Linked DNA regions of Homo sapiens. The protein of the gene in region 4 purifies or fractionates together with the protein of the main gene of each other region. This does not show direct contact. Each region holds a gene or a part of one and is shown on either strand. Other genes may lie near its edges.

Region 1 (6,925 bases), on a different chromosome or scaffold from region 4:
GTGGCAGAACCAAGATTCCAATACAAACACCACCTCACAAAACTGAGACAGGGGCAAATCCCCTCCATATTACCTGTGCACTATGCAATGAACGGAGGGGAAGAGCAAGCTCTGCCAAGGGAGCCTTTGAATAAGCCATGAGAAAACTAGGATCAAAGGCCGGGCACCATGGCTCACACCTGTAATCCCAGCACTTTGGGAGGCCGCGGTGGGCAGATCACTTGAGGCCAGGAGTTTGAGACCAGTCTGGCCAACGTGGCAAAACCCCATCTCTACTAAAAATATAAAAATTAGCTGGGTGTGGTGGCGGGCACCTGTAGTCCCAGCAACTCGGGAGGCTGAGGCATGAGAAATGCTTGAGCCCAGGAGGCGGAGGTTGCAGTGAGCCAAGATCACACCATTGCACTCTAGCCGGGGTGATAGAGGGAAACTCTCAAAAAATGGAAAAAAAAAAAGAAAAAAAAAGAAAGAAAACTAAGATCAGCTTTCCAGAATCCTACCTCTCAGCTCACCCAGGTCAGAAATGAAAAATGCTCAGACCTAGACTTCACAGACAGGAAGTCTGCCAAGTCCCACTGGTGGGCTAGTTACAGTTTTCATGGCCCAGCTCTGCCCACTGCACAAGTAAAGGCACTGGGGTGACACCTGGCAGTCTGTGGAGGAAGAGAGGCTGGGTGTAAAGAGGCCATGTAGGCAGCTGTAGAGTGAGAGGAGACAGGAATCTCTGCCTCTCGGCAATAGGAACATCTCCCAAGTTTTTTCAATTCTTTTTTTTTTTTTTTTTTTGAGACAGAGTCTCGCTCTGTTGCCCAGGCTAGAGTCCTGTGGCGCTATCTTGGCTCACTGCAAGCTCCGCTTGGGTTCACGCCATTCTCCTGCCTCAGCCTCCCGAGTAGCTGGGACCACAGGCACTGGCCACCACACCCGGCTAATTTTTTTGTATTTTTAGTAGAGACGGGGTTTCACTGTATTAGCCAGGATGGTCTCGATCTCCTGACCTCGTGATCCGCCTGCCTCGGCCTCCCAAAGTGATGGGCTTACAGGCATGACCCACCGCGCCCAGCCTCTTTTTTCTTTTTTTGACTGAGTCTCACTCCATCATCTCACTGCAACCTCCACCTCCAAAGTTCAAACGGTTCTCGTGCCTCAGCCTCCCGAGTAGCTGGGATTACAGGGGCCTGCCACCACAGGCTGCCTAATTTTTCTATTTTTAGTAGAGGCGGGTTTCCCTATGCTGGCCAGGCTGGTCTCAAATTCCTGGCCTCAAGTGATCCGCTGCCTCAGCCTCCCAAAGTGCCGACTTTTTCAATTCTTTTTTGAGATGGAGTCTCGCTCCGTTGCCAAGCTGGAGTCCAATGGCATGATCTCGGCTCACTGCAACTTCCGACTCCCTGGTTCAAGCAATTCTCCTGCCTCAGCCTCCCGAGTAGCTGGAATTACAGGCACATGCCACCACATCCAGTTAATTTTTGTATTTTTAGTAGAGATGGGGTTTCACTATGTTGGCCAGACTGGTCTCAAACTCCTGACCTCGTGATCAGCCCTCCTCGGCCTCCCAAAGTGCAGAGATTACAGACGTGAGTCACCATGCCCGGCCGCTTTTTCTTTTTTCTCCTTTTTTTTTTTTTGAGATGGTCTCGCTCTGTCGCCCAGAGTGGAGTGCAGTGGCGCGATCTGGGCTCACTGCAAGCTCCGCCTCCCGGGTTCACGCCATTCTCCTGCCTCAGCCTCCCTAGTAGCTGGGATTACAGGCGCCCGCCACCACGCCCGGCTAATTGTTTTTTGTATTTTTAGTAGACAGGGTTTCACGTGTTAGCCAGGATGGTCTCGATCTCCTGACCTCGTGATCCGCCCGCCTCAGCCTCCCAAAGTGCTAGGATTACAAGCGTGAGCCACTGCGCCCGGCCAGCTTTCTCTTTTTCTTTTTTCAGACGGAGTCTCGCTCTGGGCTCTGTCGCACAGGCTGGAGTGCAGTGGCGCGATCTCAGCTCACTGCAACCTCCGCCTCGCGGGTGCAAGCAATTCTCTTACTCAGCCTCCCAAGTGGCTGGGATTACAGGCGCCCGCTACCACGCCCGGCTAATTTTTGTATTTTTTACTAGAGACGAGGTTTCACCATCTTGGCCAGGCTGGTCTTGAACTCCTGACCTCGTGATCCACCCGCCTGGGCCTCCCAAAGTGCTGGGATTACAGGCGTGAGTCACCGCTCCCGGCCTCAATTCTTAACCTAGCTATCAACTGCAGTGTTAAAGAAAAACGCCTCAGTCCTAAGGCACTTGGTCAAGAAAACGCTGCACTACTACAAAATGATCAAAGCAGCATTAAACTGTGGACTGTTCGGTAAGTGCGGAGCTCTAGAGACGATGAAGGGGAGAGCATCTCTGCTCAGAAGAAGCTTTCATGGGCAGCGACTGAAAGAATGAGGCCCAGAGGAATTTCTAGGAAATTTCCAAGAAAGGAAATTCAAACCCGAGAATTCCCAAGAGGTGTCTCCCACACCCCTGTTATCTGACTCTGCCATGGCCACCCTCCCCCGTCACAGGTCTCTGCGTGCCATGCACCTAGAGTCCACTTCATGGCGACTCTCCAACACCTATTTTCTCCAGGAGCTGCTTCGGACCCCGTTTGTTTTTTGTTTTGTTTTGTTTTTCTGACAGCGACAGCCCTTGGGCAACGCTAATCATTCCAAGCAAATTCTGTCATGCCAAGACCTCCCTTAACAGCACGCGCCCACTTGTTCCCAACTCTCCTGCCAATTGGGCTTCGGGAGCCTCCAAAACCAAGGCTCGGAGATGTGGAGCACACAGGGGAAGGGTCGAGCTGGGACCCACACCCGGCTCTTACACCCACACCGCCTGTTGAGCCCAAGGCTCAACTTCAACACAAAGCTCTCCTTCCCTCAATTCCTTCAACGAAGGTTAACCTTCAGCGAACACCTACCGGACCGGGACAGAGTGTACGAGCCGCGCGGGAAGGTGGCACAAAGGCATGGCCCAGAGGGGTGGCAGAAGACTCAACCGGGGCCCTCCACTCCCCAGCCTGCCCTGCCTGGGCAGAGCCGGCTGGCCGGCCCGAGTCCTGGGGCTCGCGGAGGAACGGAGATGGCCTCCGCAGGGGCTCGGGGAAGCCCCCAGGGCGCCGGACCGTCTCAGGCGCGCATCCCGCGCCACTCACCTGTGGGATCCATAGCGTCGCTCGCCTCAGAGATGGAAGCCGCCATTCCGCCACGGCGCCGAAAGTCGTCATCAAGCTGCGCGCAGAGCCACGCCCCGCGGCCGGGCGGGAAAAGCGCTTCCACCTCTTTGGGCCGTTACCTCAAAAGGCGCGTGCGCAAAGCGAAGGCCGGCCGGGCGGGGAAGAGAAATGGCGAGGCAGGAGTGCGGGGGAGGGAGTGGTCCTTAGCTGAATGCGCCTGCGTTGTGGCGGCCTCCGGCGCCCCAAGGTACTTTCTCCCCAGCAAGGAATCCGCGTGCGCGTAAGCAGTATTGTTGATTAGTGCCCCCCCCTTCCCCCCGCCCGCCCCGAAAAGCGACCCCTAGTGGTGCACCGGTGCGGACCAGAAAATTGCACGCTTTCTTGAAAGAGGCATTTACCGAGCGCCCAATGTATGCCTGGCACTGGGCTGGGTGCTGCCACCTAAGCGAGCACGACCAATGCAGTCTATCAGGGAGGCCCAGATCGCCAAGCAGCGGACCCCTGCGGTCCGCCATGCCACTCCCGGCTCCTAGAGCGCCGCTCAGCACACCGTGAGCGCCCAATAACTGTTGGGCTTCAATGACGCCGCGGAGGCGGCCCCGTCCCCGCGCTCCCGCCCCTCCCGCCAGGGCAGCCCGGGAGGCCAGACGTTGACGCTGCAGGGAGAGGGTGGTGGGCGCAGCCGCTAGGGGGCGCGGCGGGGCGGAGCGCACCTTTCCGCGGGCCGCGGGGATGGCGGCGCAGGGCGTAGGGCCTGGGCCGGGGTCGGCGGCGCCCCCGGGGCTGGAGGCGGCCCGGCAGAAGCTGGCGCTGCGGCGGAAGAAGGTGCTGAGCACCGAGGAGATGGAGCTGTACGAGCTGGCGCAGGCGGCGGGCGGCGCTATCGACCCCGACGTGTTCAAGTGAGCGGGGCGGGTGGGGGCCGCATGCTAGCCAGACACCCCCCGACCTCTGCTTTCCGGGTACGCCCGGCCCGCTGGTCGGGAGGAGCCCCCGCCCCCGTCCTTGTCGGGTCTTCAGGGAGGTGGCCGCGCCGGGCGGAGAGGGCTCACCGGCCCCGCGTCTGTCCCCGCCAGGATCCTGGTGGACCTGCTGAAGCTGAACGTGGCCCCCCTCGCCGTCTTCCAGATGCTCAAGTCCATGTGTGCCGGGCAGAGGCTAGCGAGCGAGCCCCAGGACCCTGCGGCCGTGTCTCTGCCCACGTCGAGCGTGCCCGAGACCCGAGGTCAGAGCTGGGCCCGCTGTCCCTGCCCCAGTGGCGGGGGTGGCGGGCGGGGAGGGGGCAGGCGCGGCACAGCGGCGGCGTGGCCCTGAGTGGCCAGGCCTGTCTGTCGGTCTAGGCCCAGCACCTGCAGGGCCCATCCGTGGGCTCTGCTCCTGGGCTTCGCTGCCAGCCTTAGGAGGCACGTCCAGGTCAGGTGGACGCAGAGTGCGTACCCCAGGGTGGTCCAGGCTGGGTAGGGCTCCTCCGCTTAGCTCCCCTCCACCTCTTCACTCAGGCCTTCATCCTACAACGTCGGGAATCAAGACAGTTTGGGGCTGGGCGCCCTGGCTCACGCCTATAATCTTTGGGACCCCAGGGCGGGAGGATCGTTTGAGGCCATGAGTTTTAGACCACTCTGGGTGACAGGGTGAGATCCTGTCTCTAAATGTTTTTCAAAAGACAGTCTCGATCTCTGTCCTGTGGTATACAGCATCCAGGGAAGTGCCCAGGGACCAGGGCAGGCAGAGGTCTTCCTGCCTTTACCCCACCTGGGCCCAGTTCCTGCGCAGGGGCTTGGCCAGTCCTGGTCAGCTTTCCCTCTGATGACTGCAGGAAGAGAGTCAGACGCGGAACTCCCAGGGTGCAGAGGCCTGCGGGGTCTGAAGGGCCTCCTCCCTCTCCAGTGTGGTGACTGGGCTGAGGAGATTCTGGGACTGAGAGTGTCATGGTGGAGCCTCTGTCCCTGCTCATCCTCTCCGCATGTTGCTTCTGCTCCCGATGGCTCTCTCTGAAATGCAGCACAACCTCCTAGGCCAATGGAAGAAGGCCCAGAGCTGGCTCCCTGCCTGGAAGCACGAGGAGACCCGCACAGGCATCCTGAGAAGGCGTGGAGAGCAGGCTGCCTTCATGGGGGGAGTGCCAGGGCCTGGGCACCCACACCCGCTGACCCAAGAGGGCCCGGGCACCTGCGTGCTGGCCTCTTCACTGACCTTCGCTCTGTCTGCTCTCTTTGTGTCTCTCTCTGACCTCCAGAGGCCTCCTTTCTCTCTGCCAGGAACAGTAGCCCCCCTGCAAGGCCCTCCTTTTCCTCCAGCCCGCAGCCTGCGGCCTCTCCGGTTCTGCTCCACAGCCCGGCTGCCACACACTCGCCTCTCTCTCCAGGCCCCCCGGGTTCCCTCCGCCTCTCTTGCTGCCTGTTCTCTCCTTTTGCAGGTTGCGTTTATTGGCTTATCTCTGGGGGTTGGTGCTCTCCCTTGTTTCCATGGAAACTGCCTGGCCCCAGGAGGCCCAAGCAGCTTTGAGCTCCAAGGGCAGGACCATGCAGGCCATCGCTGCCCTGCCGCTTAGCCACAGGGCACGATTTCTGACTCGGTTTATTAGAGACATAGTGTGGCAGTCTCTAGACCCCACAGTCGGGCTGGCATCTGGGGACAGGACCAACACCCCCACACCCCAGAGGCGAACTGTGGTGAGTGTAAAGAGCCCCTCTCCAAGGGAAGACAGCCGGCCAGAGTGCGGTGTGCTGTGCTGGAGAGCACAGCCCCAGGCGTGACAAACACCTCGGCCTCTTAGAAGTTGTCCCTTATCTGGACAGGAAGTCTGGAGGCTGAAACAGAGACTCCCACCTTCCCAGAGTCTCCTGGGCAGTGCCACACAGATGCCATATGCTGGCCCCGTGGCCACACTCCAGCACTCAGCCCCCTTGCCCACCTCACTCCTGAGTTAGCACACTTTCCAGGTGTCAGCAGGTGTGATCAGGGGCTCAGAGCCAGGGTCCTGTGAGAGCCCAGGGGTCTTTGGTTGCACCTCCTGCGTGCACTTCCTGACAGCGCCCACCTCACTGCCACCCAGAGCTCGGACCCAAGGGAGGGTGGAGAGGGGCTGAGGGACAGGCCTGGAGTAGGGGTGTATGCACTGCAGGCTGAGATGAGCAATTGAGGGGCAAGTGTCCAGCAGGAGGGAGAAACTGGGAACAGAGTCCTTGTCACTCCAGGGGATGTTGCTGCTCACTCAGCACTCACTCAGGGCTCTGGGAGCCAGGCCTAGCTCTCAGGGCAGAGGGTGTGGCAGGGAAGTGAGATGATCACACTCAGAGCCCAGTGAGAGGCAGTGAGGAAAACCACCAGCGAGACCAGTGTGGTGGCTCACACCTGTAATCCCAGCACTTTGGGAAGTCAAGGCAGGTGGATCCCTTGAGCTCAGGAGTTCAAGACCAGCCTGGGCAACATAGCAAGACCCCATCTCTACAAAAAATACAAAAACTAGCCAGGCAGGGCTGGGCGCGGTGGCTCACGCCTGTAATCCCAGCACTTTGGGAGGCCGAGGCGGGCGGATCTCGAGGTCAGGAGATTGAGACCATCCCGGCTAACACGGTGAAACCCCGTCTCTACTAAAAATACAAAAAAAATTAGCTGGGCGTGGTGGCAGGTGCCTGTAGTCCCAGCTACTCGGGAGGCTGAGGCAGAAGAATGGCGTGAACTTGGGAGGTGGAGCTTACAGTGAGCCGAGATCACACCACTGCACTCC
Region 2 (7,074 bases), on a different chromosome or scaffold from region 4:
CACTGCACTCCAGCCTGGGCGACAGAACGAGACTCTGTCTCAAAAAAAAGAAAAAAAAAAAAAGATAATGAAAAGCAAGCTTTTCATTAAAAATAAAAGTGCAAATCATATATCTGCTACAGGAACAGAATATATATAAAGAACTTACACAACAAACAAGCCAGTTTTCAAACGTGCATAAGATTTGAACAGACGCTTTGCCAAAGAGGATGTGTGAATGACAGAGAAGCATAAAGATGCTCAACATCATTCGTCTTTTTTTTTTTTTTCTGTTTTTTTGAGACGGAGTTTCACTCTTGTTGCCCAGGCTGGAGTGCAATGGCACGATCTCGGCTCACTGCAACCTCTGCCTTCCAGGTTCTAGTGATTCTCCTGCCTCAGCCTGCCAAGTAGCTGGGATTACAGGCATGCGCCACCACGCCCGGCTAATTTTTTTGTATTTTTTAGTTGAGATGGGGTTTCTCCATGTTGATCAGGCTAGTCTCAAACTCCTGACCTCAGGTGATCTGCCCACCTCAGCTTCCCAAAGTGCTGGGATTACAGGCGTGAGCCACAGCACCCGGCCTATCATTCGTCATTATAACCACAATGAAACTTCACTACATGCCCACCAGAATGGATGAAATTTAAAGACTGACAATACCAAGTATTGGTGACGATTTAAACCACTGGAACATGAAGAAATTACTAGCAAGAATGCAAAATGTTTCAGCAACTTTGGAAAACAGTTTCTTTTCTTTTTTTTTTTTTTGAGACGGCATCTCGCTCTGTTGCCCAGGCTGGAGTACCGTGGTGTGATCTCGGCTCACTGCAACCTCTGCCTCCTGGGTTCAAGCGATTCTCCTGCCTCAGCCTCCCGAATAGCTGGGATTACAGGCGCCTACCACCATGTTTGGCTAATTTTTGTATTTTTTTGTAGACACGGGGTTTCACCATCTTGACCAGGCTGGTCTTGAACTCCTGACCTCGTGATCTACCCACCTCAGCCTCCTGAAGTGCTGGGTAGTTTCTTAAAAAGGTAAACATATATCTACCATATGACCCAGTAATCCTGCTCCTAGGTATTTACACAAAATAAATACTTATTTTCACACAAAGACTTGTATCCAAATGTTTCCAGCAGCTTTATGCATAATAGTGGAAGATGGAATGACCCAAATGTCCATCAGTGCAAACATGTATTAACAGTGGTGTTCTGTCCATACAGTGGGCCGCCACCCAGCAAAACCAGGAGCCAGTTACTGATTGTTGAGATAGCATGGATGGATCTCAGAAGCACTGTGGTAAGTAAAAGAAGCCACATGCAAAATATTAAATACTGTATGATTCCATTTAGAGGGAATTCTAGGGTCCAGGAGTGGTGCCTCATGCCTGTAATCCCAGCACTTTGGGAGGCAGAGGCAGGCGGATCACCTGAGTTCAGGGGTTCGAGGCCAGCCTGGCCAATGTGGAGAAACCCCTTCTCTACTAAAAATACAAAAATTAGCTGGGCGTGGTGGTGGGCGCACCTGTAATCCCAGCTACTCGGGAGGCCGAGGCAGGAGAATCACTTGGACCTGAGAGGCAGAGATTGCAGTGAGCCGAGATTGTTCCACTGCACTCCAGCCTGGGCAATGGAGGGAGACTGTGTCTTAAAAAAGAAGACAAAATAGAGGGAATTCTAGGAAAGGCAACCAGCAGTGGCAGAAGCTGAGAGGTGGTTGCTGGGAAGGGGCTGGGGGGAGGGGTGGCTGCAGAGGGGCATAAGAGAATTCTTAGGGGTGATTGAAACGCCCTAGGTAATGATTGTTGTCATGATACCATCGCTACACATTTGCCAAAACTTTGCACGTAAATTATATGCCAAGAAAGCCAATTTTTAAAAAGAAGGAAAGGATGGGTTTGAAACCCCAGTTCTTCCCCTACCAGCTGCACAACTTTAGCCGATTACGTCGCCTCACTGAGCCTCTGTTTTCTCATCTGTAACAGGGAATATAAGAGCAGCTGCTTCCCATCATGGCTGGAAGTATTAAATGCATTCATTTGTGGCAAGGCTTATAGTAATGCCTGGCGAAATCCATATTAGCTATTATAGGGAGCGTTCCTCAATTTGCGGAGAGGTTTGGGGTAGAGGCACAAAAGATGACCTTACAGGCCAGTTAACCATTCTCATCTCTGAAATGCCCCGCACTTTCCCTACCATGTCTTGGGAGCGGCTTCCTGATGACAGCAGTTCTGTCCACACGAATCTGAGGCTTTCACCCAGCTGTCTTCTCAGAGCCGAGCCGCTGCCCCTTCCCCTGCCTGTCCCCTGTCAGCGCTTCCCTCCACCCCATGGTCATCGCACACCGGAAAGGCCTTGCGAGCCCCAGGGGAGCAGATGTTGGTGCTCCGATTCCACGAGGAGGCCTCTGGGTTTTCCATTTTACCTGCCTGGATGGCTTAGGACTTTCCCGGACTCTGGGGCTAAAGATTCGGCACCTGAGTTTTAAAACCTTTCCCAGCACTTCCCAGAGATGCCCTCCCGTCCTCTGCACTCCTGTCCTTCCCTGGCCACTTGGGCAGAAGTCATTAGCACTGCTGAGAAGGGATGATGCTGGGGTTTCTGTGCACTCAGGCCCTTAATCCAGATGAGATTTTTTTAAACTCCCCACAGCCAGTTCTATTTCCAGCTGCACCTGCCCCTGGATCTTCACAGTTCCTCTGGAGGGGATTAGGCAAACCGTGCAGCTGCCTAAAACCTCACACCTTGAAGGAAATAGTCATTGAATGTCTGACCTCTGGGCTGGCTGTCTCGGACTCTAAGCTGCCAGGGAACCAGGGCCTTCCACCCAGTGGGACTGCCTGGGGGCTTTTAAATGCCCCTGCCTGTCCCCTACTCCCAGAGATGGTGACTTCCTGGGTCTAGGCATTAGGAGTTTGTAAAACTCCCTGATGATTCTTCTGTCCAGCCCAGGCTGAGAACCACTGGTCAGAGGCCTGGGCACATCCCAAGGCTCATCCAGAACCATGGGGTGCAAGTGACAGAAACAAGAGCGGCTGCTGATTGCCTCACTGAGCGGTGAAGCCCAGCCTTGACCATGGATTAGGCCAGCTGGACCCAGGAGCTCAGGCCGGAGGATGCCTGCTTCCCTCTGCTCTGCCCCACCGGCCCCAGCAGCCTGGGCCCACATCCTCTCAGTCAGAAGCTGGCTCTCACCGGCTGGCTGGGCTCACAGCCCCACCCTGAAACCAGCAGTGTGGCCCGGGGCCCCCGCAGGGCTCAGACAGCCAGGCCTTGGGTGGTTGAAGGCCAAGAGCTGGGGGCCCTCTGGGAACCACACAGCCGGGAATGGGAGGGGGTGCTCCCCAAGGGACAGTTGAGGTGCCGGCTTTCAGTGGGAGGAAAGGGAATGGGTATGAGCTGGACAGAGCCATTATGTCACCCAGAGAGGCTCTGTCCCCCGCCCCGCTGAGGGGGAGACAGTAGGAGAGTGGCCACAGGTCCAGCAGTGGCGAGCACAGGCTCTGGGGTCAGGTGTTGGAGCAGGGTCCAGCTCCTCCACTGGCCAGCTGCATACCTGGTTCTCAGTGCCTCCCTCCCCTGGGGACAGGGGACAGTGCCATGCAACCTTGTGGGGCACAGGCCCTCTGTGTGGTCAGCATGCCAAGAGCACAGAGAGGGTGGATTTGCACATAAGCAGCCCCCTGTGTGGTGTTCACCCAGCCAGCAACGTGCTAGACCCAGGAAAAGACTCGGAGCGCTCTGTCAGAGTCCACAGCCACACCACCAGGTGCAGACTGTCTGGGCCCAGAGCCTCTGCTTCTTCCCCTCCCGTCCACCAAACGCCAGCCCCTGACCAGCCTGGCGGCCTTTCCAACTGAGTGTGGCTGTTAGTCCTCTTGCAGGCCTTGCTCCAGCCAGACTCCCACCTTGGGCCTCTGCCAGCCTGGCACTGATAGCCACAGGCAGAGCTGAGACAAAAGAGAGGGGCCCTGGGGAGTATCAGCAGCAGCCAATCCCGGAAGACATCTATGTCAGGTGGTTTCTGGAAATCGAAAGTAGACTCTTTTCTGAAGCATTTCCTGGGATCAGCCTGACCACGCTCCATACTGGGAGAGGCTTCTGGGTCAAAGGACCAGTCTGCAGAGGGATCCTGTGGCTGGAAGCGAGGAGGCTCCACACGGCCGTTGCAGCTACCGCAGCCAGGTAAGCTCCTGCCTCTAGCTCTCAGGTGGGCACCCCTCTCAGTCTCTCTCTCTTTTTTATTTTTATTTTTTTTGAGACAGGGTCTCACTCTGTCACCCAGGCTGGAGTACAGTGATGCAATGTCCGCTCACTGCAGCCTCTGCCTCCTGGGTTCAAACGATTCTCCTGCCTCGGCCTCCCAAGTAGCTGGGATTACAGGCGCGTGCCACCACGCCCAGCTAATTTTTGTATTTTTAGTAGAGACAGGGTTTCGCCATCTTGGCCAGGCTGGTCTCAAACTCCTGACCTCTGGTGATCCACCCGCCTCGGCCTCCCAAAGTGTAGGGATTACAGGTGTGAGCCACCGCGCCCGGCCAGGGCACCCCTCTCTCTACACAGGCAAGTGGGGGTCATGCCTCCCTGTTTGCACATAGGCCTGGAGCTGGGGATCCAGGGCTCCTGAGTCCAGCAACAATCATTGCTGCTCCCAGGCCCACAGGGCCTCTGTGTACAGTTGGGCAGATTACTCACTGCACAAGGATACCAGCCAAAGGGCAAGTGGGTTAGAATTCAGCTTGGCCCTCTCTCAGACCTGTGCATTTGGCCTAGGCCTGCACCCACTCCAAGGAAGAGCACCTTTTTTTCTGATTTGCACGAAGGGGCCAACACAGGCAGCCGGGTCTCAACTGTATGAAGGAATCAGGCAAAAATAGCCGCTGCCACACAAAGGGCAGCGACGCCACCTGCCAGGTGCTTCGTTGCCCCCCCCCCTTTTTTTTTTGAGACAGAGTCTTGCTCTGTCACCCAGGCTGGAGTGCAGCGGCTCACTACAATCTCTGCCTGCCGGATTCAAGCAATTCTGTTGCCTCAGCCTCCTGAGTAGCTGGGACTACAGGTGCACACCACCATGCCCAGCTTATTATTATTATTATTTTGTATTTTTAGTAGAGCCGGGGTTTCACCATGTTGGCCAGGCTGGTCTTGAACTCCTGACCTCAAGTGATCCACCTGCCCCAGCCTCCCAAAGTTCTGGGATTACAGGCGTGAGCCATCGCGCCTGGCCAGTTGGCCATTTTTCCAAGGCCCTGAGTTACTCTCCCAGGACGGACAAACCTAGTGGCTGCAGCAGAGTGAAGTGGCTGGGGGCAGAAGTGGAGAGGGCGTCCACCCATACCGGCGTGCCTGGGACTGAGGGGTTTCCCAGGACACAGGGAAACTTCAGTGCTAAAACCAGCACAGTCCCCAGCACACAGGACAGGCGGTCACACCCTGGCCCCTTTAGCCATCTACTGACATTGACACAGGGAGGAGAGGTGGGCTCCCCCGAGCAGACCCCCTGCCTGTGGCTCACTGACTGTGGATGTGGAGCCCATTTGCCTCTCTGGGTGTCAGCTCATTCACTTGTAAGGTGAGGTGTAACTAAGGTGGTTCTCAGGGTCACGGTAAGGCCTCCAGTGGTGCCCGGGGAGCCCCGACAAGGGGTGGCTGCACAGTGCCAGCGAGCACGAGTCCCAGAGCAAAGCTGCTCACCAGCCAGTGCACCCAGCTCCCAGGGCGCTTGTTCATGCAGACTCCCATGCAGAGGGGCTAGGGCAAGGCCAGCCATGACTGCATTTCCGACAAGCTCTGGGGATGCCATTGCAGCCGTCCACCAGGCCCCCTCCAAGCAGCCTCAAGGTCACCAGGCCCAGACTCCCAGCCGGTGCCCACAGCAGTGCCACCCAGAGGCCTGCCCCAGGCTTGCTGAACTGAGGGGACAGTGTCAGGTATCACAGGATTCTTACCGAGCCAGAGAAACCATAACTGTCTCTCCATTGGCAGGGTGTGGGGGAGGGAGGCAGACGAAGACAAAAGCGTGGAAATTACACGGAGGCAAGAACACCAGGCCAGAAGGTGGAGACCCGGACCTCCCCAGTCCTGGCCTGAGTGTCAGTGTCTTGGGGATACTTCAGCATTTCCTCCCTGTTCTTCCCCCAGCCTGGCCCACCCTGGGCTGCAGCCCTGACCCTTTTCATCTATCTTCCCCATCGGAACACCACGGAGCCCCGATATATCTCCCTGCCACTTATCTCTGTCACCCCTCGCCCGGATTCTGTGCCCTCTCCTGACGAGTCCCCTCCCATCCACTCTCCAGGCTGCAGCCTCGTCTCTGCCTGCTGAGACCCTCTGGGACAGTCCCTGCAGGGGTCTGTTGCCTGAAGCTTAAGGCCGAGATCTTAACCAGGCTCACCCGGCCTCCCGACCTGGGCCCACGCCTGTGGCCTCCTCCATCTCCCCGCCCATGCCCGTGTGGCAGCCTTGCCCGGGGCCTGGTTTTTTGAGATGAGCTCACTTGCCTCTAGTCACCAATTCTTGCTGCCCTTACTGCCAGGGGGTGCCCCCAGCCCACGCTTCATCTAGCCAAGTGTTACACATCCTTCCAGGACCACACTGCAGACCAGGTGAGGGGCCCCCGCGGGGGCATCCACAGCACACGTCACACTTACTGGGATCATAGTGGGCTCTGCAAGAGAGGGACCCCGCCTGCCACACAGCCCAGGTTGGGCTGAAGGGTGAATGGGCAGGCCAGTCCCTGGGGCCTCGGGCCATCTGGCTCCCGTGCCTCACCCCTCCGCTTCTGTCTGCTGCAGGATCTGGGCATCCAGGCACGGCCATGACCCCTCCGAGGCTCTTCTGGGTGTGGCTGCTGGTTGCAGGAACCCAAGGTGAGCTGAGCCCCTGGGAAATACCAAAAGCAGAAGTGTGGAAGGCTGGTGCACCCTGGGGCTGCTCAGAGCTTCAAGGAGATATTCTGCCTGGGGCCCGGGGCCCAGCGGTTAGCCAGATCTTCTCTCCTGCTTGAAGCACCAGGTATCCCCAGTGATGATGACTTGGAGGTTCCCGGGGGCTCACCTGGGTTCAGGTGAGATGCAGGTTATAGAGAGGAC
Region 3 (7,023 bases), on a different chromosome or scaffold from region 4:
TATCTATATTTTGCTTGAAGTTTTCTGTGGATATATATTGCATTAGCTTAAACTCTAAGGCTTTTCCTGTAGCAGTACTTTACTCCTATTTTCCTTCGGTTTGTTTTTAATAGTCTTGGTTTATCTAGTTTATGGTGCAGCTTGTCACATTCATCTTTTATAAGAGGAAATGGTTCATAGATTCTTCAAGATTAATCCCTCTGTCATGTGGTATTACATTAGACAGCTGGCAGTTTATATATATAGATAAATGACTATTAGAAATAATGTTATAGAAAGTTTCTAAGATTTGTATTCCAGACAGTGAATTTTTCTAAATGTCACAGGAACACTCTTCTTTGCCAGTTTTTCAAGTTTGCACATGCCAAATCTTATTTAGAAATGTTTGATGTCTCTCAGTCCAAGTTGACTATTAATATTTTCTTCATTCTTTATTTTAGATCCAAAGATAGCATCTTCTGTCACTGCTGGAGTTGCCAGTTCACTCTCAGAAAAAATAGCCGACAGCATTGGAAATAACCGGCAAAATGCACCATTGACTTCCATTCAAATTCGTTTTATTCAGAACATGATACAGGAAACGTTGGATGACTTTAGGTAGTAATTGAGAAACTACTCCTTCTATCTAGACCTTACTTGTTTTTTTTTTAGATGTAAAACCAGAACTATAGATAATGTTGTTGGTTACTATTGTCTAGGTTCTGGTAATCCTAAAGCCATAGAAAACATAATGAGTTTTGTTGATCTTTTCGTACTGCATTTATTGATTATGAGCCAGGAAAAGGCACATTTACCTAGGGCAATTATTAGGTAACTCAGCAGGGCAGTCTAGCAGGTAGACTGCCATTGTGAACTTTTTTTATTATTAAAATGTGGACAAGTTCTGGTAAGCTTAAATTGGGTTCTTAACCTGCAGTATGTTCATAGATCTATTAGGTATGCTGTGTGCAATAATGTAGTAGAAAAAGATACTTTAAAGCACAATTCTGAATGTTTTCCAATAGAATGCATCAGAATGTAATACTTAATCTAAAAAAAATTCTTTCTCAGACTTATCCTTGTCTGTCTCATCCTTCGAATTGTGAACATTCTAAGAATGTGTTCTACAATGCTGCTTTCTTTTATCATCTCAATATTTTTGGAAGCTATCTTCAATTATTAAAATCATTGGTGCCTTTTTTCCTTTCTAACCTATAGTTAATGTTGTAGCTCAGATTTGGATTACCGTAAGCAAGAATGTTGGAGAAAATGTGCAGTTTTTGTTGGTGCATGCTTCCTTTTAATGTTTTAAAATACTTTTAAAATATATTTTTAAATGTCGAAAAATACTTTTTAAAGAAAAATTGTAATTTTGGCATTTACCCTACCTAGTATATGTACCAGATACTAAGGATACATCAAATGATCTGCCACAAAGGCCTTGTGATGTAGTTGGGCTAGGTGCAGTGTGTTCTGCCATGTGTGTTTCTCTTAATGTGAATTAATTCATTTGGGATCAGTAGAATAGAACACTGTTGACAATATGATGAGGAAATTTTGTTTGTTCGTGTAATAGCAGCCAAAATAAAGTACACCTGAACACAGCTGAATGCAGCAAACCCCGTCAGCATCCATCTCTTTTTATTCACTTCCTCTTGGCTTGGCTGTGTGGTCTGTTAGAAGTACTTATTTTGTGATTATTTCCCATCTTTGGGCATTTTGCTCTTGCCTCTGTAACTTGATAGCCGCAATCCTTCTATCCTCTTCCATTAAGTGACCATCACTTCTTCACAGTAAGGGTATTATTCAATAATTATCTATTAGATTTTTACTATGTCTTTTTAACTATGTTAGTATTTTTATTAGGATTTAATTGTTTTTGTTGTGCTCTGGTTACAAAGTTGCATAGGTTTTTGAGTGCTTTGCCCTAATCCTTTTTCCCTAAGTTCTGTTATTTTTAATACACAGTGTTAAAGAATATACGTTTTTTTCAGGAGTGCATAAATATTTATGGCATAATAGTAGAACTGTCTGGATACAGCTGACTATAATACAGTGTGAGCAAAGTGATGTTGAAATCACAGAAAGGGAGCAGTTCTTCTGTGGGGGCAGATTTAGAAAGGTACACTGAAGAGATTTTATTTTATACTGATGTGTGTGGGAACAGCTTGAGCAGAGACATGATCATACATTCTAGGAATGTTTGCAGAGAGAAGGCACCGTGGTAAGAGACCAGGCCTGAGGGACAGTTGTGAAGGTCTTAACACACAGGTAATGGAGAGCCATCAGAGTTTTTAAGCACAGGAGTAATGGGTGCTGTCTATTTATTACCCATTTATTCAACAAGCATTTGGGTGTCAGTTCACCACTGGCTTCAGATGATTTGAGGACAGTGGGCTCAGGGCCTTTCCTTCAGCAGACCCAGGGATCTGAGTGCTGGAGCAACTCTGAAATCGCTGTGCATTTCTGCCCTGCTGCCAGCTTTCGGGGTGGCTGGAGCTTGTTTTTCACTATCTAACCTGTTCCTGGCTTTCTGTGCCTCAGGAGAAGTGTGTCTGTCCCACTTTCAGCCCTGCAGAGCTGCTGCAGCACGTTTGGTGAAGACGTACAGTCAGTGCCTCTTGGTTTTGCTGCCCTGTGCTGCATGTCTGCACCTAGGAGTGGTGGGTAGGGACTTCTCTCAGCTCTTCTGCCCTTTGACCATAGGCAGCCTCTGCCTGGGACGCAGTGAAGACCCAGAGTGGCTCAGAGGATTTCCATAAATTCACTTGTTTTGCCATTTGCCTAGGTGTTCATCAGACTAGGTGTTCATCTACACCTATCATTGGCAGGACAGAGAGGGTATTGAGGACCTCTTTCTCAGCCATCCTCCCGTGGCTGCCATCTTCTCCATGAGAGCCTGGAGTGCCTTAGAGGGGTTACTCTCAGTTCTTCTCTGCTGCCCTAAGGTTTCACCAGGCTCTGTGCATCTGTATCTTAGGGAGTCTCCCTCAGCCCTCCTGTTACACTTGTCCCTACTTTTTTTACATGAGCGCTGAATGAAGGCTTGTGGGAAAAAGTTGGTGAGTAAATTGAGACTCTCCTTGTGGCTGGGACCCCTTGGAATTCTAAACTATCAAGCAGTGTTTACTTGGCTTTTAAAAATCTTATTAAAATTTCAGCTAGTTCTTTTTACTCTGTCAAGGGCATGAAGATGGGTCTCTTTTCTCCTAGTCATGGGTCTCTTTTCTCCTAAGAGGAACTCCTCATTTTCTGGATTTTAGTTCATTTAGATTTCTTTCCATTCTCAGCTCTCGGTTGAATTTAAAATAATATGATTTTATAGGTTATCAGGTTTGTTTTCGTTATTAGAGTTGAGAAATTATACTTTTGCACCAACCTAATACATCCTAAGTGGAAATCTGTGCATCTGTTTCTGTTGTCTATTAAGAAGATTTAAGTTTCTTTTGGCAAGCAGATCCCTTTGATCCTTTGGTTACTAGGTTCAGGTTTTCTTAGCACTAGTTTGTTTCCAGTTTGCCTTTATTCCTAGTGTGTAGTCTTTTCTAGGACATCAGCTGAATGTCTGGAGTATTCACTGTCTTTTTTACCTTGGTGGGTCCCAAACTTCAGCCTCTATTTTGCCAGCATCACAAGACTTCCAGAATACTTTCTCTGCTCTTTAGTTACTTGTTTTTTGGTTGGTTTCCTGCCATCTAACCCAGGGGGAGCATTGCTTAGAAGTCAACAGATGTCTTGAGGGGAAATTCCACAGTTTCAGGCTTAGTTTTCTGCAGGCCTCCTCTCTTCAAGACCTTGGCTCTTACAGCCTTGGCTACCTTGGTAGGCCCAAACTCTTAATACTCCCCCACCCAGCGAGACTATCTCAACCTCCAGGCCACTGCTTCAGCTCGGTTTCTTCTCCACACTGTGGAATCAGCACATACTCTAGAAGGAAAAACAGAGGTAAATGAAGAGCTTACCTAGTAGTCTTTCGTTTGCAAGATCATGGCCCTTCAAGTCCTGGCTACCTCAATGGTTCCCTGATACAGTGTTTTTGTTTGTTTTCAATACAGTTTTTACTATAATTGAAAGTAGAAGAGGAAATTTTTAAAAATACCCTCATAGTTAGAACAGAAAAACAATAAGTTACTTGGGAATAAATCTACCAAAGGTAGTGAAGATTTTTGTAGAAAAACATTAAAAATTTTTTTTGTTTAAAAGCATTAACATTTAAATAAATGGAGAGATTATAAAGATATTAGTTCACCTAAATAGGTCAGTAGATTGAATGCAATTCCAATTAAAATCCCAGCTGGGATTTGGAAGAAGATGATGAAGTGATTCCAAAATATGTATGGAAGGAAAAAAATCTAAGAATAACTAAGACATTTCAGAGAAGAATAAGGTTGAAGGGGACTTATTTGTCAGATGAATACACTTAATTATTAAAGTATAATTAAGATATATAGCATGGCACAGGGATGACATACTGGCCAAAGGAATGAAATAAGCTGGAAAGAAACCTATGCATATATGGAAATAATAGAGAGGTAGCATTGCAGATTTATGTGCAAAAAATGGAATAATCAGTAAGTTGTGTTGTGACATTTGTTTTTTCCTGTAAAAAATAAGTATAGATTCCATGCAATTGAGAAAAATCAGTTCCATGTAGATTAAAAGTTGACTTTATAAAAGTTTATAACTTCATGGTAGGAAATCATTAAAAATAAAATAATGCACTGCCTATAAAAATACATTGGTAAATTTGACTGCATTATTAGTATATTTGAGCACATTAATAAGAACTATTTATCACACAATATCACAGAGTGAAGGGATAAGAAGATACCTGCAGTTCTCATATAAATAACAAAGGATCAGATTATGTAAAGAATGCTTATAAATGAATAAGAAAAAGATATGAAAAAGCATTTCAAGGAAGAGGAATGGTATATGAACACAGGAAAGATATTCAACTTCACAATTAATCAGAGAACTAAAAATGCAATGAGATACCGTGTCACACCGAGTAAATGGGAAAATATAAAAAATCTGGTAATACTAAGTCTTGATGATATAGAGCAAGAAGAACTCTGTTATACTGGTGACATCCATTGATAACTACCTTTGGAAAACAATTTGCATGATTTTGTAAAAGTATACACTTGAGTTACAGTTGGTTATATCATCAATGGACATTGGCACATGTGGGTTTGGAGATAATACATGATTGTTTATAACAACGTTGGAATAGTAAAAACTTGAAAACAGTCAAAATATTAACAGGAAAATAGATACACCAGTACAAACTAATGATATACAGATATATAAAACATGAATCTTCAAAACAATATTGAATTATTTCTTAAATATAAGCTATATGGTACCCTTTTTTGTAATGCTCAAAAACATGCACAATGAAAACATTGACTACAGATTATATGTTATACAAATGTATTAAAAAAGCAAAAGCATTTCTTTGTCCAACAAAATTCAGGAGAGTAATGACTTCTTTCTTGGGCTTTTTCCCAAGAGTTAAGTGATAGAATCAGACAGGAACACACAGGAAGCTTCTATTATTTGGTAATGTTCTAGTTCATAAGTTGTGTGGTGGGTGACTGAGTGTTTCTTTTGTTATTATACTTAATAATTTTTACATATTCTTTTGTAGGCATGAATTAATTGTATTTTATTGAGTAAGCCATGCTATATCCACCCAAATTGCCACTTTATACTGAAAGTACATTTTTTCAATAGCTAAACTGATAATAATAAAATGATCTTTCTAACCTAGTGAATTTTCTGTATTTCATTGTAAGATAAGTTTGTGTCTTAATGACAATTTCTATATAAAGGAATATAGTATCGGAGAGTTCAGGGGTTAAACAGCCTGGGTTTACATCCTAGCTCCATCATTTACTGGTTGTGTGACTTTGAACAAGTTATATCTACTCTGGTTAAGTTATTTCTTTTGTAAAATGGACCTGTAATAATTGCATCTACTTGTGAAGATATTTTAAACGAGTTCTTACATTTAAAGTAAAGGAAACAGTGCCTAGCACATAGTGAATAAATGCTCAGTGCATTGGTATTTTTATTATTATAGTAATTATTAACATTCAGTAATTTGGCAAATGAAAAAGTTTAGTGAGTTTCTTGAATGACCTAGAATTGGTTAAACTATTGTAATTCTAAAAAGTATTTTACATTCTTCCTAGAGAAGCATGCCATAGGGACATTGTGAATTTGCAAGTGGAGATGATTAAACAGTTTCATATGCAACTGGTATGTATGGCAAATTTTATTTTAATATTTTAAATGAAAGTAGAGTTGTGTGAATTTTTAAAAATCCATGAAAGGTAATATATTTTAGTTGTTTTGTTTAGTTTCTAAGATAAATAGGGAGTTTTATAGACTAAATAAGTAAAATAGATTTTAACTGGTCACCTCCTTTTTAACCTCTGAGATACTTAAGCCTTCTTTTTTCCATGGCTTTCTTCCTGATAAGTAAGCAAAAAGCATTTTAAATGTGCAAATATAAATTTTCCAAATATACTAATTTCACCAACGATCTTCCATTTATATTAACAAACTAGTAAGTTGTTAAGTACAAGAAATATCATTCACCTAGTTAATTGAACATGAGAGAAATGATAGCTGAAAGTATATTAAACATAGCCTGCCAAATAAATGTGAAATATCAATAATTTAAAAAGCATTTTCCTGTTTTTCTAGAATGAAATGCATTCTTTGCTGGAAAGATACTCAGTGAATGAAGGTTTAGTGGCTGAAATTGAAAGACTACGAGAAGAAAACAAAAGATTACGGGCCCACTTTTGAAATTTCAGTGAATACCTTAATGTTCTGTAATTTGGGAAGTTTCTGGCAACACAGAACTACATAGAATCAGTATTGTTTTCATGGCCTCCAGGGAAAAAATGTTTTTCAAGTAAGAGTAAAAGGATGATGGGATTTTATACCAACAACTGTTTCATCTTAAAAATATGTATATTTTTATATTAAAAATTGTACAGTATGTCATCTACCCAATAGGAAAGTCAA
Region 4 (7,855 bases):
AAAAAAAATGTATTACAAAAGCATAAGGCCAATTGTAATATGTCATCAAAGAATAAGGTAATTAATCAAATATTCTATGGAGTTACCAGATAAAATGCTCACTAATCAAATTTTTAACACCAAATATTGTAAAGGTAGTAATTAATATTGCTCCTTTGCTCACTAAGGTATAACAAATGAAAGAACAAGGTAAGCTACTATTTATAAATTCTTCAGTAAATAGCAGCATAATTTAAAATTATATCATAAATGCTTGACAATCCTAGCTATCTAGAACATAGCAAAAAGAGCATCACCTTTAATGGACTTCATGACATAATTTATTCAGAGAGGGCCGGGCGCAGTGGCTCGTGCCTGTAATCCCAGCACTTTGGGAGGCCAAGCGGCAGGGGGGTGGGGTGCAGATCACTTGAGGTCAGGAGTTGGAGACCAGCCTGGCCACATGGTGAAACCCCATCTCTACTAAAAACACAAAAATTAGCCAGGAGTGCTGGCATACACCTGTAATCCCAACTACTTGGGGGGCTGATGCAGGAGAATCACTTGAAGGAGGCAGAGGTTGCAGTGAGCCCAGATCATGCCACTGCACTCCAGCCTAGGTGACAGAGCAAGACTCCATCTCAAATAAATAAATAAATAAATTATTTATTCAGAGAGGACCCTGTCAGGATCTGAGAGCCCACTTTTAGACACAGTTCTAAATGGGAAGATAGTAGGATACAGAATTTTGCTGAAAAGAAGCTTTTCAGTCTCTTAGAAGGGACAAAACTTTTATATCAAAGAATCTTCAATGTAAAAAAAAAAAAGTTTTTGGCTGGGCGCGGTGGCTCACACCTCTAATCCCAGCACTTCGGGAGGCCGAGGCGGGTGCATCACGAGGTCAGGAGATCGAAACCATCCTGGCTAACACAGTGAAACCCCGTCTCTACTAAAAATACAAAAAATGAGCCAGGCGTGGTGGCGGGCGCCTGTAGTCCCAGCTACTCGGGAGGCTGAGGCAGGAGAATGGCATGAACCCGGAAGGTAGAGCTTGGCAGTGAGCCGAGATCACACCACTGCACTCCAGCCTGGGCGACCAGAGTGAGACTCTGTCTCAAAAAAAAAAAAAAGTTCTTAGGTTGAGAAATATCATTCTAGCTCATGATGAATGAATTTCAAAATCCAATTATAACAATGGGAATGTATGAATGTGTGGTTTATCCCTAGAAAAAAAAACTCTGGAACCACTGGTATAAGGAAAACACTGACATTAAGGTGGGTAAGTCCTAACAATCTTAGTTTTATCTGATTCCCCCTATGACGAGGAACATGAAACATGTGAAAGGAAACTCAGTCTGCTAATGACAAAAACAAACGATGGCAGGCCATGCTCATACCTCAAGACCTTTCCACTGGTTCTCTCTACTCAGAACCTTCCCCAGATGTTCAAATGGCCCTCCCTTACTCCATTCAGGTCTCTTTAAATATCTCAGAGGCTTTCCCTCACCTGCCTCTTCCCTCTCTATTCCTTTACCCTACTTTTTCGCCACAGTACTTATTGCTAATTAACATGGCTGGTTTATCATCTGTCTCTTCCAGTAGAGTGTCTGTCAGATCTGTGGGAGGAATGACTTGTGCATCTGCATCACCAGCACTTAGCACAGTTCCCGGGGGGAACTTTGAGGACGGGGTTGTCCTCAAAGATTTCTTAGATAAATAAAGTGATAGAATCAAACTTTACAAGATGCAGCAAGAACTGTGTGAAGTCACTCATTTAATAGCGACACAAAATTATTCATGATTGCCCCAAGATTATCATAGAACATCCAATGAATTATGTACAGTAATTGTCATGAAGCATGAAAGGTCAAAATGCATTCTCAGTACTTTAAATGTAACTTTGAAGTCTTCCTTCAAAAATTGAGTAACTTCTTTTCCACATTTTGGTGCTTAAGATGTAACTCAGTTGCTTCCATTACTCAGAAAATTCCCTCATGGTGCATCCTCACTCTCTGCCCCACCAACCTGGCCAAAACAAGGAGCAAGAAATGGCATCCTGTACCATTTCTTTCAAAGTACCTCGACTACAAAATGGTTTTACCTACCGTATAGGATTAGTTTTGCTTATTAGTAACAATATTCGCCATGTGAACTTTCCCAGAATAGTTTTATATCAAATCCAACCTTCAACCCTTTAAACAGTAGGAAAACACGGCAGTTACAGTCGTTAACACCCTCTTCCCATAATACTCAAGCCTGTTAAACTTTCCTAACGAAAAGGGACGATGATGTGACACTCCAGCACCCCGCATCCACCTCCGCGGCGCAGCCGCTCTCTCCACCCCACAGGATGAACCCAAAGGCGCGCAGAGGCGCCCTCCCACGGCGCGTGACACCAGAGAAGGGGGATAAATTGGCGAGCTGGCATTCCTCCCGTCCTCACTGACGGACCCGCGAGCGGAGTGAGCGGTGACTCAGCCCGCTCCGGCTCGGCTCCGCCCTCCCGCCTCCCGCCCCGGCGTTCTCGCCCCGGCCTTGGCCTCTCCACTCCCTCCGCCCCGGTCCTGGCCCCCAGCCCTCCGCTGTCCTCCCCGGCTCCCTGACCCTCGAACCCCAGCCCTCCGCTCCCTCGTCCGGGCCCCACGTCCTCGGCCCGTCCCCCAGCCCTCTGCCCGGCCCTGCATCCTCGTTCCTCCAGCCCCGGAACGTATTAGGGCTGCACGCGCAGGGAGCAGCCCCCGGGACGGGTCTGCGGGCTTCGCGTCGCCCGGCCACTCTACCTTCGCTCCTGCCCAGGATCCTGCAGCACAGGTTCTGCAGCAGAACGTTCGGCGACTTCTGGTCCGGGGTCGCCATCCTCGCCCGGAGCCGTGCACGGTGGTCCGGGCAGAGCCGCCACTGCCGCCGCACGCGCAGGGACCGCGGCCCGCGCCCTTCCTGCGCCCCGCAAGCTCCCTGCTCCTGACAGGCTAAGGCGCGGGCGCCGCCGGCCACCAGGGCGCCATTTTAACGGAACCCGCCGAAAGCGCGGGCGCTTCCCACAATGCCCCGCTTCTTCCCTGCGCCGCGGCCGCGCGTGCGGCTGCCTAAGCGTTCCCGGCCCTGTCTGGTGCATTCCCCCTGCTGCTGCCCGGTCGGCCGAGAAAGTTCCGGGCGACAGGTGGCCCGAGGCCCTCGAGCTGCGCGGACAGAGCGGCCCCGGAGTCGCGAGCGTGACGGGCTTGCTTGGAGGGCACTTGGTGGCCGGTAGCACCATAAAGGCCATAATTTGGTGTGTGGGTGTGGGGGTGTGTGTGTTAACGGCATTGGTTTGATTCACACTTCTGATGAAAGAAGCCTGTTTAAAAAAGAAAAGAAAAAAGAAGCCTGTTTAAAGGGTGCAGGGTGTTACGATTGTTAACGTGCAGTGGGCAGTTCACCTGCTACGCTATCCAACAGGCGCCCTGCTCAGGCCCGACCTCGCACTGCCGCGCGGGCCGGTCCCCCCCGGCCCGGGTAACTGGGACGTCCTGGGAAAATAAATTAATCACGTACGGAGTGAGAGAACAGGAAACCTGCCGAGAAAAAGATCGATAAGCAGACAATTACACCAAGCCAACTTCAGTGCAATCGTTAAAGCTTACACATGGGTGCACGCTTGGGAGCCGTGAGCTACCATGTTAAAAGGCCAACTTCCTAAGGAAAAATGATGGAAAGAGATCCCGAGATCCTATGAAATGGAAGAGGGAGGACAACCCAGCTATCCCAACATCCCAGCTGAGGCCAGCCACACACGTGACTGTCTGCAAAGCCCGTCGGGCCTGGGTCCAGCTCAGGTTGCAGAATTGTTGGCAAGTAAAACGTTTGTTGTCGTTCTGACTCAAAAACATGGAGACAAAGCAGACTTGTAGGGTATTACAGTCAACAACTAGACCCTACAGCTAAAGGACTGTCTCCTTGCATGATGCAACAACCATCACAGCTCTGCAAGAGCAACCAAACCACCAAGGATGCGATCACCCCTCACTGCCTTCGATACGCATTCTGTGGAAACGCTTCTAAACTTGCATCACACTCAACACGATCAGTTAGTAACTGGCTTCTCATGAAGTTATTCTCTCAGCCGCATACTACAATGTCCAGATGTCATCTAAATCCTGCCACCCTCTCCCCCACCTTCAGCTGAAACGCTGCATGACTGCATCATCTTACCTGACCAGCTCTCTCCTAGGACAGACATGCAAGAACCCCCCTCACTAACGCTGATGTTATTTGGTTTACAGATGGCTCTTACTTAAAGATGCAGCTGGAAGGTATTACACTGGTTATGCCATAGCGTCTTTGCCCAAAGAAATAGAAAGTGCTTGTCTTCCAGGAGCAATCATCTCAACAAGCAAAGTTAATAGCATTAATTAGAGCCTGTCAGTTGGCAAAAGGAATAACTGCTAATCTTTATACCAATAGCAGGTATGCTTATAGAGTAGCTCATAACTTTGGAATGCTATGGAGACAAAGGATTTTTAACCTTTTCTAGTCAGCCCACAAAAAAATGGGTGCCTTGTTTCAGAATTATGGCAAGCCATACTATTGCCAAAATCATTAGCCATTATCAAGATTCCAGGCCATTCAAAGACACTCAAAAAAGCAAGATAAGCCAGTTAGCAGGTAGTATAGCAAACAGGGTGGCCATAAACATATCTGAACAAAAAGATCAAACCATTTTGGCCTTTAAGGAAGTTAGATTTTTATGTAAAATTAGCTCAATCTAAATCTCCAAAAACAGGACGAGAAAATTGGGAAACAAAAGTGGCACATGCGCTTCTGAGACTGATGTACGGTTTGACCAAATGTTCTACTCATACTTCCAACTAAGTTACAACCATCTTTCTTTTTTTTTTTTTCTTTTTCAGATGGAGTCTCGCTCTGTTGCCCAGGCTGGAGTGCAATGGCGTGAACTCCACCTCCTGGGTTCACGCAATTCTCCTGCCTCAGCCTCTTGACTAGCTGGGACTACAGGCACCCGCCACCATGCCGGGCTAATTTTTTGTATTTTTAGTAGAGACGGGGTTACACTCTGTTAGCCAGAATGGTCTCGATCTCCTGACCTCGTGATGTGCCCGCCTCGGCCTCCCAAAGTGCTGGGATTACAGGCGTGAGCCACCGCGCCCGGTCCAGCCATCTTTCTTAACGTGCATACACGATGTGACTCACTGGAGCCCTGATAAGATTATTGATTTCTTGAGGAGAACAATGTTGTCGGAAACCTTCTCCAACTGTTGCTCACGGGTATACAGTCAGGGCTGTCTTCCCAGAATATAATGCAAGGAAACCTTGACCCAGTTCTCCATGTCATTTTCCTTTACCAGAAGGCCCTTTCGAGGTATGGCAACTAGATTTTTTCAGCTACCACCATCACAAAGATACAGGCACATCCTAGTGATGGTTTGTGTATTTTCTCATGGGTAGAAGCATTTCCATGCAGAAGAGCAGCAGCCTTGGCGGTAAGTAAAATTATCTTAGAGAAAATTATTCCGATTTGGGGAGTTCCTCAAGAACTTTATAGCAACAGAGGCACTCATTTCACTGCACAAATAATCCAGTTAGTATGCAAAATCTGGCCCATTTTCCAGCATTTCCATTGTGCCTATCACCCCAGTCATCTGGGTTAGTAGAATGCACAAGCAGAATAATCAAAACTCATTTGGCAAAATTAACTGAAGTTTTAAAACTCCCTTGACTGGAAGCTCTTTCTTGTTTTTGCTTCACCTAAGATCAGCCCTTATGGGTAAACACCAACTGTCTTCATCTGAAATTATAACGGACAGACCTATGAAATTGTCTCCAGGAAATTGTAAATCGATGATATTAAAAAGGGACAGGTTGTATTATTGCAGCAGCCTCATAAGGCACCTAAGTAAAAACTGTTATTTAGTAAAAGATTCTTTCCACAGTGAGCTCCAAGAAGCAAAAACTCAAGGAACACATACTTCAGCCAGGAGACTTTGTAGGAAACAGCATCCTTTAAAGGACTTTCTCCACCAAGGAGGAAGGAACCTTATCAGGGACTCCTAACCAACCCTTGTGCCACTAAGCTTAAAGGAGTTGATTCCTGGATACCTGCCACCCATGCAAGGAAAGCTGCTTTGTCAATTTGGACTTCATCTCAAATTGGTGATCTAAAACTAAAACTCTCCAGAACCAACAAGGATGAGAAGAAAACAACATGTGAGGCGATCAGCCTTCTCAAGACACCTGACCAGGCCTGTATCTAGACAAACCCTTAATATAATCATCGTCAGTAGATGAGGAAGGTCTTCCTTTACAAGTTCCCACCACACTTCCTTCTTTTTGTCCCTAGTTCTTCTGTTTTGTTGCTACCATCACCAGCCATTGCCCATGAAACAAACATCTTCTTGCAGTAGGCTTGGGCCTGTGCTAGTAAATTACAGGACAACACTCGTTAGGTGTGTGGCCTTGCGCCCCTTTCTGGTGGTTCTGGCCTACCATGGTGGCAGCTCCTCTTCAAGGACAAGAGTAGACAGAATATCAGAAATGTGTCTGTGTTTCTCAGGACAGTCATTGGTGCTTAGCACTAGTATGATGAAGGCAAGTGTGCATCACTGGCCTATGAATGATACTTTACAAAGCAAAAGCCATAGGAAGAGCTTTCCAGTAAAAGTCCACATACCTTAATGCTGGTACTACACCAGCTGAGAGATTAGACCACTCAATATCGGGATGGCATAACACAAACTTGGGATGGTTTCACCTGACTTACCCTCTCTTTGGGTCAACTTAGTTCACGTGCCCCTTTACATTGGGAACAAAAGAATCATATCAAAGATCCCTGGCCCAGGAGCACTGGAGATACGGGATGGAACCCAGAGAACAGTGCATCTACACCATTGTGTTACAGAGTCCTGGCTGGCATGCCACTGAGTGGGCATAGTGACCGGGTGTTTACTGGTTGGCTCCAGATGGAACATCTGGACTCTGTGATAATGACCTATGGCCATGGTTACCCCCAAGGTGGCCAGGACACCATTCTCTGCATTATGCCTGGACATAGGATGGAATAGTTCACAACCGACATAGATAGTAGATAAAACTAGGTAGTCTGAATAATTCAAAGTATGGACTTTGATTCATAATGCTTCAATACTGGTTCTTAAATGTAACAAACAACACACTTTTAATCTGTGCATTGTGAGGTGCTGAGCGAGAGGGGCCGGCTGCCAGGTGCCGGGTGGTGGGTGGGTCAAAGGCCAAACGCAGGTTCCACCAGGCAGGTGTCACTCCCGGCAGGAGTAGAAACCAGAGGCCTCACTGAGAGTGCCAGCCCCCACCCTGGTGTTTCATTTTCCCCCACGGCACTGGGTGAAGGTTAGGTGTGTCTGTGAAGACAGCAGTGAAGGGATACTGTCTCACTGCCCAGAGAGCCCCTAACAAAAGGTTTCTGCCATTCTATGGCCCTGGAGTCAGGGGAAGAGAGAGAGGGAGGCAGCTGAGAGTGGAAAAGTGCTGAATGCAAAGTCAGAGTGGGAAAAATGTCTTCCAGGCCCCCTGAAAAGGAGGCTTTGGCAGAGGTACCTAAGACAGGCCTCAGCCAAGGGACCCATGTGGTCTCGGAAGGGAGGTGCCTGGGTTGGGCACAGGGGATACCCAGGGCACCCAGGTCCTTCCCCGCAACAGCCTTCAGACACGGCAGTGCACTGGCCACACACCATGAGGCAGCCAGGTGGGGCCTTTGTCATCACCCGTGGTCAGACCTGAAAGATCCCACAGGGCATTTGGGCTGCAGCCAGCCAACTTTCCAGGCAGCATGTTGCATTCCAACTCTGTTTCAATAAAACTAGTTTCGAAAAAGAAAGAAACATTTCAAAATATTGACGGGATG

Evidence for each region.
Region 1: the proteins of TUBGCP3 (region 4) and MZT2B purify together in Homo sapiens (affinity purification with mass spectrometry; 5 studies listed by BioGRID and IntAct, with this or other methods). This does not show direct contact.
Region 2: the proteins of TUBGCP3 (region 4) and LGALS3BP purify together in Homo sapiens (affinity purification with mass spectrometry; 5 studies listed by BioGRID and IntAct, with this or other methods). This does not show direct contact.
Region 3: the proteins of TUBGCP3 (region 4) and NEDD1 purify together in Homo sapiens (affinity purification with mass spectrometry; 3 studies listed by BioGRID and IntAct, with this or other methods). This does not show direct contact.

The regions. Positions count from the first base shown.
Region 1 is NC_000002.12:130,178,356-130,185,280, forward strand, and holds the start of MZT2B (mitotic-spindle organizing protein 2B), read left to right. Parts: upstream 1-3,906; 5' UTR 3,907-3,927; coding exon 3,928-4,097; intron 4,098-4,271; coding exon 4,272-4,420; intron 4,421-5,431; coding exon of another isoform or gene 5,432-5,611; intron 5,612-6,925. Other genes in the region: SMPD4 (sphingomyelin phosphodiesterase 4), read right to left, coding at 2,941-3,246. UniProt on the Homo sapiens protein: Required for the recruitment and the assembly of the gamma-tubulin ring complex (gTuRC) at the centrosome.
Region 2 is NC_000017.11:78,976,918-78,983,991, reverse strand, and holds the start of LGALS3BP (galectin-3-binding protein precursor), read left to right. Parts: upstream 1-4,068; 5' UTR 4,069-4,168; intron 4,169-6,777; 5' UTR 6,778-6,800; coding exon 6,801-6,852; intron 6,853-7,074.
Region 3 is NC_000012.12:96,945,253-96,952,275, forward strand, and holds part of NEDD1 (protein NEDD1), read left to right. Parts: intron 1-440; coding exon 441-597; intron 598-6,179; coding exon 6,180-6,246; intron 6,247-6,696; coding exon 6,697-6,801; 3' UTR 6,802-7,023. UniProt on the Homo sapiens protein: Required for mitosis progression. Promotes the nucleation of microtubules from the spindle.
Region 4 is NC_000013.11:112,585,146-112,593,000, forward strand, and holds the start of TUBGCP3 (gamma-tubulin complex component 3), read right to left. Parts: upstream 3,009-7,855; 5' UTR 2,836-3,008; coding exon 2,760-2,835; intron 2,277-2,759; exon of another isoform or gene 2,085-2,276; intron 1-2,084. UniProt on the Homo sapiens protein: Component of the gamma-tubulin ring complex (gTuRC) which mediates microtubule nucleation.